Homo sapiens: one gene and its partners. The protein of the gene in region 3 purifies or fractionates together with the protein of the main gene of each other region. This does not show direct contact. Each region holds a gene or a part of one and is shown on either strand. Other genes may lie near its edges.

Region 1 (5,014 bases), on a different chromosome or scaffold from region 3:
TAATCCTCCCTAACTTCTGTATCTCTGAAGTTAGCTTTATGTTTTCTTGTGACCTGCATTCTCGTTTCTCCCTGCTCCTACTACGGAATGAAATAATTTGTTGGTGTAGATTTGAGTCTTCCAAGTAAGAGGATACCAGGCTTGGCACTTGTTGGCCACTGTCAGTCCTGCAGGTGTCTCCAAGGGTGATGCTTACACACAGCCAGGCAAAGGGACCCAGGGACACAGCCAGGCAAAGGTGTTCAGGTTTAGAGGAAGTATGTCCTGCTCTCAGGGTCTGGACACTGATGAGGGGTCATCTTACAGGCAAACCCTGTATCTTAGTGATTCTAAGAATCTTGACCTAATGGATGGACTGGGGCAGTGAATTTCAAATCAATTTAGTAGGTAACAACCAGTATTTCTCTTGGAATGAAACAGATTGTGATGGGATGGGACGGGACAGGACGGGATGGGATGGGACGGGACGGACGGGACGTGATGGGACGGGACGGGATGGGATGGGACGGGATGGGATGGGATGGGTTAAAATATAGCAGAGGAAGGGCAGGTATTAAGTATGGCTCTGTGAAATGTATTTATATGTGTTTAAGTATTGGGTTGCTGTATATTTCTTACTATGGGTTGTGATAAAAAAAAAACTTTGAAAGCCACTGGTCTAAGGATAATATGTACTTTCACATTGATTAAGAATCTCGCTAAACCATATAGAATAATGATAAAGTTTTTGCAAGATCAGTGGATACCAGTAGTTGTAGTACTGTTTCCTAAGATTCTCTTCCATCTTTTGTGTGAAAAGTCATGTTTGTCTGCATGTTCTCTCTCATAAGTGGGAGTTGAACAGTAAGAACACATGAACACAGGGAGGGGAACATCACACACCGGGGCTGTTTCGGGGGTTAGGGGCAAGAGGAGGGAGAGCATTAGGACAAATATGTAATACATGTGGGGCTTAAAACCTAGATGATGGGTTGATGGGTGCAGCAAACCACTGTGGTACATGTATACCTGTATGACAAACCTGCATGTTCTGCACATGTATCCCAGAACTTAAAGTATAATAAATAAAAATAAATAATAATAAATAATAAATAAATTGTGTTTATTTGTCATACCATGTTACCAGGCTCATTGAAAGCCTGGGAAGCTGGAAATGAGTCCAGTAGAATAATCAGTCTCCTAATGTGCAAAGTAGTGGAAAGATTTAGAGTGCCATGTTTCATTTTTTATTTGTGATATAGTAGTAGTAGTATTCCATGTAGGCGAAGAATGAGAATAAATGCGGAGCAGAATCCTTGATGTTTACTTTTGCTCTTAGCCAAGGAAAATGACATGAATAGCGAAGAGGAGTTTATACTTACTGATTATATTTCCTAGGAAGTGGGAAATTTATATTATTCTATTTAGGAAGTTATTACATATAAATTTTGTGCCAGGTTCTATTGTAAGGGCTTTATTTACATATATTACCTCATTTAATTTTCACAGTAGTCTTATGAGGTGAATGCTATTTTTTTCCCCCATTTCACAGATAGAGCCACAGAAAGGTTAAGTAACTAGCCGTGGTTACAGAGCCAAGCCCAGCAGCCTGACTCCAGAGTCAGCTCTCAGTTATCACAATATGTTGCCTTCTCATATTGTGTAGGCCATGGAAGTCCATGTATTGAGATCATCCAGATATTGCTGCCACTCAGCCTTTCTTCAAATGGGCAACCATTTCTCATCTTCTGGTGTCTGGTGAAGATACTTCTAGGTTCTCAAATACTTCTTTGCAGATCTCTTAAATGGTCTGAAGGCCACCTATGAATTCATAGATTTCTAAAGTTAAGTTGAAAATACCCTGCCTTTCCCCTCTTGGTTGCTTCATAGGTTAATCAAACTGTGGCAGCATTAAAAACCAATAATGTGAATGTCAGTTCCCGGGTACAGTCAACTGCATTTTTCTCTGGTGACCAAGCTTCCACTGACAAGGAAGGTAAGTAAAGCATTTTATCAGAAAAGATTTTTGTCTGGAGTAAGTTGCTTATGTGTAAATGCCTATCTTAGGATTTAAAAATCTTAATATCACAGAAGCCTCATATTCCTACCAATGCCTCATACACATTGTGGCAGGTGTGCATCTTATTTCAGAAGCGAAGAATATTTCTACCATAGGTTACTTCTGTCATTCATTGATACTTAAGTTATTTATTCAGCAAATATTTCTTTTACATTGATAGTAGTAACAACCCTGGCTATCATTTATTGAGGGTGTATTGTGTGCCAGGCCCTTTGCTAAGTTGCCACTATACAAACATGATCTCATCCAACCCTCCCAGTAAATTTCATAATGAGCATCTTGAGGCCCTGTGCAAAGTCTCACAACTAGTAAATGCCAAAGCTGAGCTACTTATGGAGCTTGTCTCTGAAGCCCACACTTGTAATCTTTTTGTGATACTGTTCCTGTGGCACAGTTGTACTGTTCCAGTGGCTGCATCTGTTTGCATTTTCTTCTCAAGATGCATGTTTCCTGATACAGGGATCAATATATTTTGATTTTAGATGAAAATTGATTTACTTGGCAATTTTTCTTTTAGGTTATTCTTTTATAATCTAAAAAAGGTATATTATTTTCTTTTCCAAGTAGAGTCCTCTTATTTTTATATGTATAGTTGAATAAGAACAGCTATATAATGCAGTTAACAATCTCAAATGGTGAGACAGAAATTATTCTGACGTTAAACTCCAATTCATTGTTCCCTTATTCAGGGTATACATATGGCTTTAGTCATTACATAAATAAAAACTAGGAATAGTGGCCTGTTTGTGATTGATAGTAATTCAGGCAATCTGATTTGCAGGAATCTACCTTGCATGTATAGGTAGTTGGCTACTGCCATTCTGGGAGTGGTGGACAGCACCTTTGCCATACTGAGTTACCAGCTGTCAGTGTCTTTAATTGGCTTTAACAATAGAAGATGAGGGATTGAGATAGATGATTAATGGATAGATAGGTGGGTGGATAGATGCATCCATGGATGGATGGATGGAACCATAGATTTTGTTTTAAAAGTAGGAGAAGGGATGTTAGAGGTTATTTAGACAGATCATCTCATTTTTTAAATGGAGAGGTAGGTAACTTATCCTCAAGATCTTCTGTTCTAAGTCTAGTGCTTTTACCAGTACTCTACATATTAAGGTTCTGGGCTTGGCTATATTGCCATTTAGTGTCCTGACCATAAAGTAAACTTTACATATTTTACATTATTTCATTTTTTAGATATTTAGGTTGGTTTGGTACCAGAAGCAGCAAATGAACTATATGTTGACTTTCTTAAAATAGTTTTCTTGGTCTAGTCATGACTCATTGGATAATGACTATCCCAGATCCATGAGCAATTTTAAGAAGGGTCAAATGATAACTTTCAGTTCTCCATTGACAATGAAAATCTCTTACTGAAGACTTTTTGACATCAGGTGGTCCCCAGACGGCAGTCATTTTCTATGTAATACTGAGGCAAATTGTTACTTTGACTTGAGAGCAGAGGAGAATGGAAAAAAGGAAGTGAGTGAATATCCCAGCAGCAAACCTGGGGTCTGCTTTTGGTGCTTTATATCCCCACGTGGTTATCCCATCTTATGATTAAGTTTGATTATCTGCTTGTATTCTACATAAAATACTGAATTCAGGAACAGAGTTTTGAAACATTTTATTGTCTTCTTATGTAACTGTATTTCTAATTGCTGCCAGAGCTGCATTTTAGTACTGAGAATCCAAATGCTTTAGAATTAATGATGATAAATTCTGCTGAGTTAGTTGTTTAAGTTTAAGTATTTTATTAGTTTGGGAGTGTGTGTGTGTGTGTGTGTGTGTGTGTGTGTGTGTGTATGTAGAACTATGTATATAGAACAATATGTATGTATAGAACTATATATATATATTTCAGGGTTCTTATAAAGCAAATACCTAGTAGTAGAGACATGGTATTTTATTTCTCTTAAATGAGTACACTCATTACTGTTGAATAATTAGATTTATTCTTTATTGAAGCAGGCTTAGAAAAGATTACCCTTTTAAAAAAGACATGACTATTTCATATTGTTGTAGATGATTTTTAAACTTTATTTGTATTCAGTGGTTTCAAATAAGAAAGCAACCCTGAGTTTTTGTTTTTAATGTCATTTAGGGAGCATCTACTGTATTATACTTGTTTTATCTTATATCTTTGGTATCATCACATGTCATATCTCATCCCTCATATCTTCCCACTAGTCTGACCGATAGATATTACTATCCCCATTTTACAAATGAGAAAACTGAGGCTAGAGCTTAAGTGAGTTCCCTTTATCCAGATAGGGTCAGAATTTGAATTCAGGTCAATTTGACTATAAAACCACCATAATTACTATTTTTTTTTTTTGCTTTCACTCCTCCTTCTGTTTCTTTCAGAGGATTATATTCGTTATGCCCATGGTCTGATATCTGACTACATCCCTAAAGAATTAAGTGATGACTTATCTAAATACTTAAAGTGAGTATTGATTATCTTCAGTCATAATGAAGTACCATTTGCTTCTTGGTTTCCCCAGCAGTGGGGTTTCCTTATGGCTTATCATATCACTGTTTATGATACAAGATTATTCTTCAGCTATGTCATATACTTTGTGCTTTGGGGATGATTTTTAATGGATGATTGGAATGAACTGATTTGATGGATACGGATTGCAGGAACTAGTGAATGTCAAGATTGGAATTATGGCTTGGTCTGATTTTAGAGGATTAACTATGTTAAAATTTTATCCTCAATTATACTTAACTAATTTGGTTCTTTGTGATCGTTTTAAGAGGAAGAAAGGAGGGATGGAAAGAGTAGATGGAATATAGACTTTTTTTTAATTTACAAAATATTGATATCATTTTCACTATTATCACTAGATGTTCACTAAAGGGACTTTATGCCAAAGACTTGGAAGTCAAAGTAATATGAAACACAATCTGTGTCTTTGAGGGGCAGAAGAAGGGTTTTAAGAATGG
Region 2 (5,014 bases), on a different chromosome or scaffold from region 3:
TCACCTGGTAACTTCTTAGAAATGCAAATTCTTAGGTCTTAAACAGACCTACTGAACCATAAACTTCAGGGATAGGGCTCAGCAGACTGTGTTTTAACAAGTCTTCCAAGTGATTCTGATAGTGCAGACAATGTCTAGTTTAGACAATACCACTGGATCAAAAGGGAAAAAGCTGCTAGTTTTCTTGGGAGGGTATAGGGTGTATGGAACTAGACATATCTATTTTTGGAATTCATATTTATGGAAGCTATGGTGAGAAAATATTGACAAGGAAGTTCATGCCTGGAAGCATAATAGTAGCAGGCTTGTGTCTTTTTCACTGGCTTACTAATCAAAGTAGTATTTCTTCCAATTTGTTTTCATATTTTGCCAAATATACTGAAGTTTTAACTCTTTAGCCATTATTAATTCTTTTCATTTTTGGTGCCAACTTGGATTTCTAAATCAGTATATAACATATTACTACATATTACTAATGGATTATACATTGGTTTGCAAATGGTTTTTAAAATTTGAAATATATGAGCTACATGGTATTATGCAAATAATTTACCTTTGACATCTGTAACTGAAACAGTGGTTCTACATGTGGTTTGGGCTTCTATGTTTTATATAGTTATTAAAGCATCGGGTCTTTTTTTTTCAGGAATTTTTTTTGTTTCCCATATTTATTGCTTCAAGTTGTAGTTTGTCTTTTTAAGAATTCTCCTATGTGATTAAATGATTTATTAAACTTGTGAATGCTATTCACAATTTATTCTAAAACAGAAATTACAATTTTTTGTTTGTTTTGATGCTTTTGTGGGATTGAGATTGGGGAAAATGGAAATATTACAAAATATATAATGTTTTCTAAACTATTTTACCAAAATAAATTTGAAAATAAAATAAATGTAGGCATTGGATGACTATCTCATAAGTGTCACAATTCACTTATATAGAAAAAGATAGTTTTAGAAAAATGTGGAAATGTACTGGTAAATTTGTAGACTTAAGAGGAATGTGACTAAGTCTTTGTGCAGTGTCCTGATGAGTAACCCGCCTATCTTGTGATCCTTGGATGCTGGAAGAGTCTGCTGGATCTGACTAACATGTCTCTAGCAGCGCATGGTTGCCCAGGAAGAGAACTTGAGGAAGACACTCTGCTTTGACAAGGGCTCCTTCATTTGACAACCAAATTGTTACAGCTGGCAAGCAGTAGGCTATGTGGCTTAGTCTACTGGCAAGTAGCAGGTTTCTTGTCTGAAATCCTAAAGTGGTTTCTACTTCCAGTATTTAAGAAGATGAAAAATCATAATTATTTAAATTAAATGTTAATATTTTCTGCATTTGCTGGTCTATTTAAATTTTGAATTTCTGGAGTCAGCATGTGGTGAAGAATGCATAAGAATATAAAGGCAGATTTTGAGATTTAAGAATATGGGTTTGGGCATTTAGAAACTCGATATATGTATACTAATAACCTTTCCTTTTAATTCCAGGAAATCTTACTGATGAGGGGCAGCAGTATTGTTGTAGATTAGTGGAAATGGATTCAAAAAGTGGTCCAGGCCTCATTGGCTTAGGCATTAAAGCATTACAAGACAAAAAGTATGAAGATGCTGTTAGGAACCTAACAGAAGGTAAATGTACAGTGTATGGCATGTAACGTGAAGTATAATTATTATTCAGTCAGTAGGCATTTATCTTTGAGCCTTTCTTTAAGGAATGTCTATCTAAGGTGGAAGGGAAAAAATGTACCTGCATACCTTGGACTCTGCTTAGGTTTGAACTCTGACTCTGCTTATCACTAATTTCAAGACCTCAGAAGAGTTAAACTTACTGTGTGTCAGTGTTTTCATTTGTAAAATAGGTATATCTATATAGAAAGAGAGAAAAAAGAAAAGAAAGAAAGCAAAGCAAAAAGTAAATTGGGAGGGAGAGGGAGGGAGGGAGGGAGGGAGGAAGGCAGACATGTAGATATATATGCATTAGGAACTTAGGCTTTAACTTAGTCTTACTAGGTATGATGTTTCTGGAAGAACCTACATTCAAATTATAGATCTGAATGGTAAATACAAGCCAGGTAGGTGGTTGAAGGGAATGGGAAGAACATTTTAGGCAGAGATGAATCTGTGAAATAGCCTGAGCTAAGAGGAAAACTGTTGTTCAGAGAACTGCAGGTAGTTCACCAGGGTTTGAGAATGAAGTGTATGTACAGGAGGGGACAAGAAGTGAGATTGTAGAAGGGCCTAGCAAGACTTGGTAAGGAGTTTGCACAGTATCCTGACAACAGTGGGGAATCAGTAAAAGATTTTTAGCAGGGGAATTTTATAATCTGATTTGTCTTTTTAGAGATATTCTAGCTACAGTGTAAAGAATGCATTGGGGTGGATGGCAAGCACTTGTAGTGATTTGGGATAAAGATGGTGGAGGTCTGAACTGACGTGGAGATGGAGAAAAATGTATGGTGGGGAATGAATTGAGGCAGAGAATCAGTGTGACTTTGTGACTGATGAGATATGAGAGATGAAGAGGGGAGGAGTCTGATTTGGAGAGTAGGCATTGGTGCTGTTCATCTATGTAGTCACAGAAACCTTGTTTTTTGTGATTGTTTTTATCCTTTTAGGGTTAAAGGAAAGCCCTGTCTGCACAAGTGGATGGTATCATCTGGCAGAAGCCCAAGTCAAAATGCATAGACCTAAAGAAGCTGTTCTTTCATGCAGTCAAGGTATTTTTGATACTTTTTGGGTTGACATATAAGGGTGACCAACCCTATTTGTTTTTATCTTAAAGGACAAAGATAGTGATTTTTAAAAACCAAAATGCTATATTTTGTATTTTAAATTGCTAATTTTAATTTCAATAAGTTTAAATAAAAGTCTGCATGCATGTGTACTAGTGTGTTTATTTTTAAACTGACAATGAATGTTTAGCAAAATTTTCCTGCATTTGGAATATTGACATAGTCAGTTTAGGCTTGGGTGTGGAGGTCCTCTGTCTTTGTAACAAGGAAGTTTCTGGTGTGTCCAAGACACATGAGTTCTTAATTTCTCTCATATAGAGAGGGGAAACCTTAGGCATCTTGGAGCCTATTTGAATGTGACAGGGTGAGGGGTGGGGATAGGAAATCATGAAAGTGGTTCACTGTTTCTGACCCACCTGGTAGCTTGCTCCCTGTAACTAAGAAACAGTTCACCTTGGTCCATTCTAATTCAGCTGCTTTCCCCTTCCAGTATCCTTAATTTCTTATATTTGTTACAGGTGCTTTGGTTGTGGGCTAACCTTTATTGTTTAGCAAATATAGATAGCCATTGTCGTTTTTTAGGATATTCAGTTTTATTATATGTTGTGTGAAGATAGAGGTTTTAAATTCAGATATGTTCTGTTTTAAATTCAGGTCTTTCCATAAGGAAGTCAGGGAAGAATTTATATTTAGCTTTGAGTTATTCTTCATGTATATTGTTTTGGAAATTTATGCTTATTGTATCTGCAATTTATTATATGTCATCCTTAAAAAAGAAAAAATAAACAGAAGTGATATGGCTGTCTTCATTTGGATACCCTTAATTTTGTCAGCTCTGAAGATCGTAGATAATCTTGGTGCGTCTGGTAACAGTCTTTATCAGAGGAATCTTTGTCTTCATTTGAAAGCAGAGGCTTTGATTAAACTCTCAGATTATGACTCTTCAGAGGAAGCAATTCGTACGCTTGATCAGGTAGACTTGTCAAGTTTTTTTCTTCAACTCTAGTTAGTTTCCAATCAACCAGGCAACAACCATTCTCTGCCTACCACAAAATTTACTTATATGGATTTTGTGTTAGAGGTATGAATTCACCACATCTGCACTTTTATAAGTCATTCATACATTTGGGAACTTCTAAAGTTATTTGTTTGCTTTTTGATTAAGGACTTATAGTACTCATCATATAAGACTATTTCGTTAGTTCTAGACTTCATTCTCGTTTCTTCCTTTTGCCCTCTTAGGTTATTACTACTTGATTATTATTAATTTGAGATTCCAAATTTTTTCCTTCAGGAAGTGTTCTGCAGATTTGACAAGAATAATTAAGGACACTGTTAGCTTCATGGTAGAGAATGTTTATTTGTTTCATTCAAAGAAAGATTCATATTTCATAATGAAACCGATTTCTTAGTGTTTTGAGTTAAAGCAATTTGAAAGTCCATAGTGAAAAAAACTATAACTGGTAAATTATGAATTATAGCATTATGCCCTAAAGATTTTTGTCAGGTAAAGACTATTACTGGTCTAAATTAAAATTGAGTTTTTAAATCAGTTTTATGTATTTCAAAGGGCTTTGTATTTCATAATATTTCTTTAAAATCAGAACCGTTGTCAGCATCTTTCAACAATTAATATTTTCTTGTTTTCTTTTTGCCATCCCACCAATAATGTGTTTTGTGTGAATGCTTTATAAAGGTTTTTCAAATAATGTTTTCACAAAAAAACAAATGACTGCTATTTTGGAGAACTAGCAGAGTCCAGGTCTGAGATAGAAAATGTACAAGATGAACCAAGAACACCTTGTCATGCTAGAAAGCAAGAAACTATAAAAGGGCTCAGACTACAAAAGGGCTCAAGAGCTAGCATAAAGAGATTCTTACTGGCTAAAAAGGGCGTTACTAATGTGGTATGTTGAAACAGATCAAATATTTTAAATCCATGTGTTCATGATGATTCAGAAAACTCAGCAAATGTCCTCAAGAAAACAAATGTTTGGGGGGATGCTAAGAACCCAACTATGAAGAATAAAGGCATTTATCCTGCCTTTATCTGAATCATTCCTCAGGATAATGAAATAACGAAGGTAGGAGAAATTTGCCTTTGTTGAAGTATTCTGTCTAATAAGAGAAAATGACAGAAAATCACCATTTTGCAATCCCCAGTGAATTAATAGATCTAGGCATCAAGGGTTAATGGCTACTAACATCACACAAAGGCAATCAGGCTGGGCACAGTGGCTCATGCCTCTAACACTTTGGGAGGCCGAGGCAGGTGGATCACTTGAGGTC
Region 3 (5,014 bases):
TACTGGTAACTCTTCATTTTGCAAAATAAAAGATTGAAAATTGACTCCAATATTGATGAAGGGTAAAGATTCTATTTTAATGCCAACGTTAAAGGAGGGGAAAGATTGACATTGGTGCTAACATTGAAAGGGAGAAAATATTTTAACTCTGACTTCAATTTGGACACTTTGGATATGGTGGTACTGATAAAGAGTTGGAGATTACTGAGAAGAATGAAATGTCAGTTGTACAGTACTTCTGTGTGGACTTTGATTGGAGGCTATTGCTACTCCCTTGTGACACAGTGGTATAAGGATACATTTCTATAAGAGAAATAATCTTGATTAAACAAAGTCAGATGCTTTCTCAGAAAGGGCCATGGCACAGAGATTTTAGCGAACAGAACTTTAGCATTCATTGTGAACACATTTTTATGTTTCTTTTCCTCCACGGTATCTAAATGTAAATGATGGTAAGATTTAGTCCCTATTTTCCATTTTTTTTTTTTTGAGACAGAGATTTGCTCTTGTTGCCCAAGCTGTAATATAATGGTGTGACCTCGGCTCATTACAATCTCCACTTCCCGGGTTCAAGTGATTCTCCTGCCTCAGCCTCTGGAGTAGCTGGGATTAACAGGTGCGCACCACCACACCTGGCTAATTTTTGTATTTTTAGTAGAGACAGGGTTTTGCCATGTAGGCCGGGCTGGTCTCGAACTCCTGACCTCAGGTGATCGCTTGCATCAGCCTCCCAAAGTGCTGAGATTACAGGTGTGAGCTACAGCACCCGACCCTATTATTTTTTCTTTTTCTTTTTTAATTATTTTATCTTTAAATTTTTTTATTTGATTTAATTTTTTAAATGTTTTTTATTTTACTTTAAGTTCTGGGATACATGTGCAGAACATGCAGGTGTGTTATATACGTATACATGTACCATGATGGTTTGCTGTCCCATCAACCCTGTCATCTACATTAGGTATTTTGCCTAATGCCATCCCAGTCCCTATTTTTTCCCTGGAGACTTTGGAAAGAAGCCAAAAGTTGTTAAGCCTTGAATTGTAAAAGGCCATGAGGAGCTGGAGATCAGTTGTTGGTTTCCATTTTCGCACACAATGAAATTGACTCTGCAGCTCCAGGACCCTCCAAGCTGGGCCCTCTCTCATTTTACTTAATTGTGCTTTCATTTTTGCAGATATATCCCAAGACTGGTCAGACTTTGCTCTTTGGTGGGAACAGAAGCATTGCTGGCTTCTGAAAACCCACTGGACCCTGGACAAATATGGGGTCCAGGCAGATGCAAAGCTTCTCTTCACCCCTCAGCATAAAATGCTGCGCCTTCGTCTGCCGAATTTGAAGATGGTGAGGTTGCGAGTCAGCTTCTCAGCTGTGGTTTTTAAAGCTGTCAGTGATATCTGCAAAATCCTGAGTAAGTACCCAGGAAAGGCCCCTGTGCCCTGTAGACTCTTGCAAAGCTAGACAGGAAAATTATGTGTGCATTCTGCCTACTTCAAGTAATTGCTACAGAACACTCACCTATTAGGAAGCACATGTTTAAGCCCTTCTGGGTATTGCAGCCATTTAAGTGGAGTTAAGCCAAGTGGAACATTATTGGCATAAATCAGGTACATCTCCACAAAGCTTAAAACTATTCCAAAAGAGATTTGTTAATAGACAAGATAAACCACTAAGATTGCCCCCCAAAATTTATTGATCCAAGCTATACTCAAACATTATTGTACAGTATTTAAGATTTAAAGAGTTGTATTAAATACTTAATCACCATAGAGCTATGTGTCTTTATTGTTTTTGAGATAATGGTGTTCCAAAGTCTTAATTGCTTAAGACCTGGCTCAAGTAAATAACTCTGCCCATAAAAATCACTTATGAAGTGATTAAGCAGAAAAGTACACTTAATTGTGAATTTAAACCTAATTATTTATAGATTTGGTATCCTATAATTTAACAGTCGTAAAGACAACACTACCCAAACCAATTTTTCTTTATAAAACTCCATAAAGGGAAGGAAACACCCCATGAAGGTATTCTCATTTTATAATTTTTGAAAGTATTATAGGTGTATTCATTGGTTCCAAAACCAAAAATCAACATTTGAACCCAGAATAGATAATATATAGTGATATATAGTGAGTAATCTATTTTTCCCATTAAACCATAAACTATTCACTCATTCAGCAAATATTTATTGAGCACCTACTGTGTCCCAGGCATTGTGGTGAGTGCTAGGGATATAGTAGCAATACAGAGCTAAAATCCCTGCCACCTGGAGCTTACATTTTAGCAGGCAGAGACAGACACTAACCAATAAATGTAAATGTAACAAATTTTAAAATATAAATGGAACAAGTTAAAAAAGAATATAAGAGGTTAAAATGGGATGGATAGTACCCCAAAAAAGAGAAAAAGTATGAGCAGGATTGGGAATGCCAGGGTTGGGCAGTGGGGGCTGGTATGGTATATGAAGTAGGGTGAGAGCAGAAACCGTTTCCTGAGCATCTCTGCATTCCTCACTCCAGTCACAATGCCTAGCATACAATAACTGTTGAGTGAACAAATGAATGGAAACTTTCATTACAGAATGTAAGTTGCAGTCTTGTCCCTGGTGTGCAAATGGCAAGCATGAGGACACCTTGTGTTTTTGGTAATATTCTAATGAGGATTTGAAAGCAAAGTAAATGATTACATAAAATAGTATATTGCATACACCACAGTGGACTGGAAGCACACATCACAGCTGATACCAAAAATGTAAAGTTTTCAAGTAAACAGAAGCAGTCAGATGTTCTCTTTTCCTGATTATCTCTTTGTAATAGTTTTAAAGGCTCAGCGTGGCATTTCTAATCATTGCATTTTATATCTTATCAATTGAAGTGAAATCAAATGCAGCAGTTTAGTGGTTTTTCCCTTGAAGAACAGAAAAGACACAAATCTTAACCTTGAAGATACAGGTGTTTCTGTTTCATTGTTTTGCTTTTAGTGCTCACAGTGAAATTTTTTATTCATGACCGAGTTTGTGTATAAATTATGCATTTGGAATGGTCACACGTGTGTTGCAACCTGACAATCCTTGGCTGCTGGGGAGAGTCAAGCTAAACTGCTAGGCTCAGTCTCAACACTGAGCAGTATATGAACGAAATGATGAGAGAACTTAATGGAATCAGTGCACTTACCTTCAACAAAGCTGCTCAGAAACTAAAAGTCCAAATTAATTGGTTTTTACCTGGAATGATAGCCACTAGTGTAGTTAAAGGTTATCAGCAATTCTGATCAGCAATTATAAATATATTTGATTAATGGGAGAAATGGGGATTACCATAGTTTCAGTTCCCAGAAGAAGACCCTGAGATAAGGATTCAAGTACAAATAGTTTATTTGGGAGGTGATGCCAGGAAATACTGTTGGGGACAGGGAAGTAAGACTGAAAAGAGAAGAGTGTCACCAATCAGGTTACACTTCAGCAGCTGGTGACCCCTGGGAGACAGTGTAGACACAGCCTCAGGGTAAGGATGTTTATGCAGCACCCTGGATAGTCACTGAAGGTTGCTCTTGGGGAGCATTAATTCCCGGAATATGTGGGCTGTTGCAGTGCAGACCCTGGTGAGCCATCAGAGCAAAGCCTCTGGCAGAAAGATGCATGGTCTAGATTCCGCCAGAAGCCAGGTGTGCTGAAATGGTGAGGACCAAGAAGAAATGGGCAGGGCATGAGGGTGTCACCACAGGGATAAAATGAGCTGATGGGCAATGTGTAAAAGAAAGACGTTCAAGATCTGTGATCTATAAAGAAAAAAGGAAGCAGGACCTTTGTTGGTTGTTTAAAAAACTGGAAAAAGGAAAGGGAGAGGGAGCAAGGAAGGGAAGTCTATTAGTTCATTTTCATGCTGCTGATAAAGACATATCTGAGACTGGGCAATTTACAAAAGAAAGAAGTTTAATGGACTTACAGTTCCACATGGCTGGGGAGGCCTCACAATCATGGAGGAAGGCAAGGAGGAGCAAGTCACGTCTTACATGGATGGCAGCAGGCAAAGAGAGAGCTTGTGCGGGGAAACACCCTATAAAACCATCAGATCTCATGAGACTTATTCACTATCATGAGAACAGCACAGGAAAGACCTGCCCCCATGATTCAATTACCTCCCACTGGGCCCCTCTGACAACACATGGGAATTCAAGATGAGATTTGGGTGGAGACACATCCAAACCATATCAGGAAGAAAGGGGAGAGGGAGGTAAAGTTGGTGGTAAATAGGTAACAAGAATAGCATAATGCTAGTAATGACTGAAGCTGGGGAGCCCATGAAGGGGACATTATACCATTCCCTTTGCTTTAGATACATTTGAAATATTTTTATAATAATTTTTCTAACCAGAAATTTCACTAGACTGAATCTCCCTCCACCGTTTTCTCCCCCCACCTACTTTGGAGGTCTCTGTTCCCCTTTCCCCTTCTGTTTCTTCAAAAGGGATGCAGTTTAGTCCCATTTACTTTTCAGAAATTTCCTGAGAAATGATTTTAAATGCACAAAATGACCCTGAGTCTTAGAAGGAGTTTTCTTTTTACTTTTTCTTCATTTTTAAAAAATATTTATTTCTAGATATTAGAAGATCAGAAGAGCTTTCCTTGTTAAAGCCGTCTGGTGACTATTTTAAGAAGAAGAAGAAAAAAGACAAAAATAATAAGGAACCCATAATTGAAGATATTCTAAACCTGGAGAGTTCTCCAACAGCTTCAGGTTCATCAGGTAAGACTTGTTACAGGTGTTTTGTTGTTTGAACGTACAGTAAAACTCAAGAGAGAAATATATCTCTCCTCCCACCCCCACCAAACAAAGGAGAAATAAAATTGCAGAACTGATGTGATGAGGAAAGGCTATCTAGTCAAGTTTAGAATTAACAGAAATGTGTTTCAGACTTTTTTTCATCAAGCATGTTTAATAACTCATTACTTGAATTGTATATCTGATGTTGCCAATGAATGCAAAATTTTAGTACCACTGACCACAAATTTGGGATA

The links. The genes of interacting proteins can lie anywhere in the genome.
Region 1: the proteins of FERMT1 (region 3) and RNASEH2B fractionate together in Homo sapiens (co-fractionation; one large-scale study listed by BioGRID). This does not show direct contact.
Region 2: the proteins of FERMT1 (region 3) and SKIC3 fractionate together in Homo sapiens (co-fractionation; one large-scale study listed by BioGRID). This does not show direct contact.

Annotation. Positions count from the first base shown.
Region 1 is NC_000013.11:50,943,558-50,948,571, forward strand, and holds part of RNASEH2B (ribonuclease H2 subunit B), read left to right. Parts: intron 1-1,869; coding exon 1,870-1,975; intron 1,976-4,429; coding exon 4,430-4,511; intron 4,512-5,014. UniProt on the Homo sapiens protein: Non catalytic subunit of RNase H2, an endonuclease that specifically degrades the RNA of RNA:DNA hybrids. Participates in DNA replication, possibly by mediating the removal of lagging-strand Okazaki fragment RNA primers during DNA replication.
Region 2 is NC_000005.10:95,526,697-95,531,710, reverse strand, and holds part of SKIC3 (superkiller complex protein 3), read left to right. Parts: intron 1-1,481; coding exon 1,482-1,622; intron 1,623-2,608; coding exon 2,609-2,710; intron 2,711-3,558; coding exon 3,559-3,698; intron 3,699-5,014. UniProt on the Homo sapiens protein: Component of the SKI complex, a multiprotein complex that assists the RNA-degrading exosome during the mRNA decay and quality-control pathways.
Region 3 is NC_000020.11:6,112,205-6,117,218, reverse strand, and holds part of FERMT1 (fermitin family homolog 1), read left to right. Parts: intron 1-1,174; coding exon 1,175-1,408; intron 1,409-4,595; coding exon 4,596-4,742; intron 4,743-5,014. UniProt on the Homo sapiens protein: Involved in cell adhesion. Contributes to integrin activation. When coexpressed with talin, potentiates activation of ITGA2B. Required for normal keratinocyte proliferation.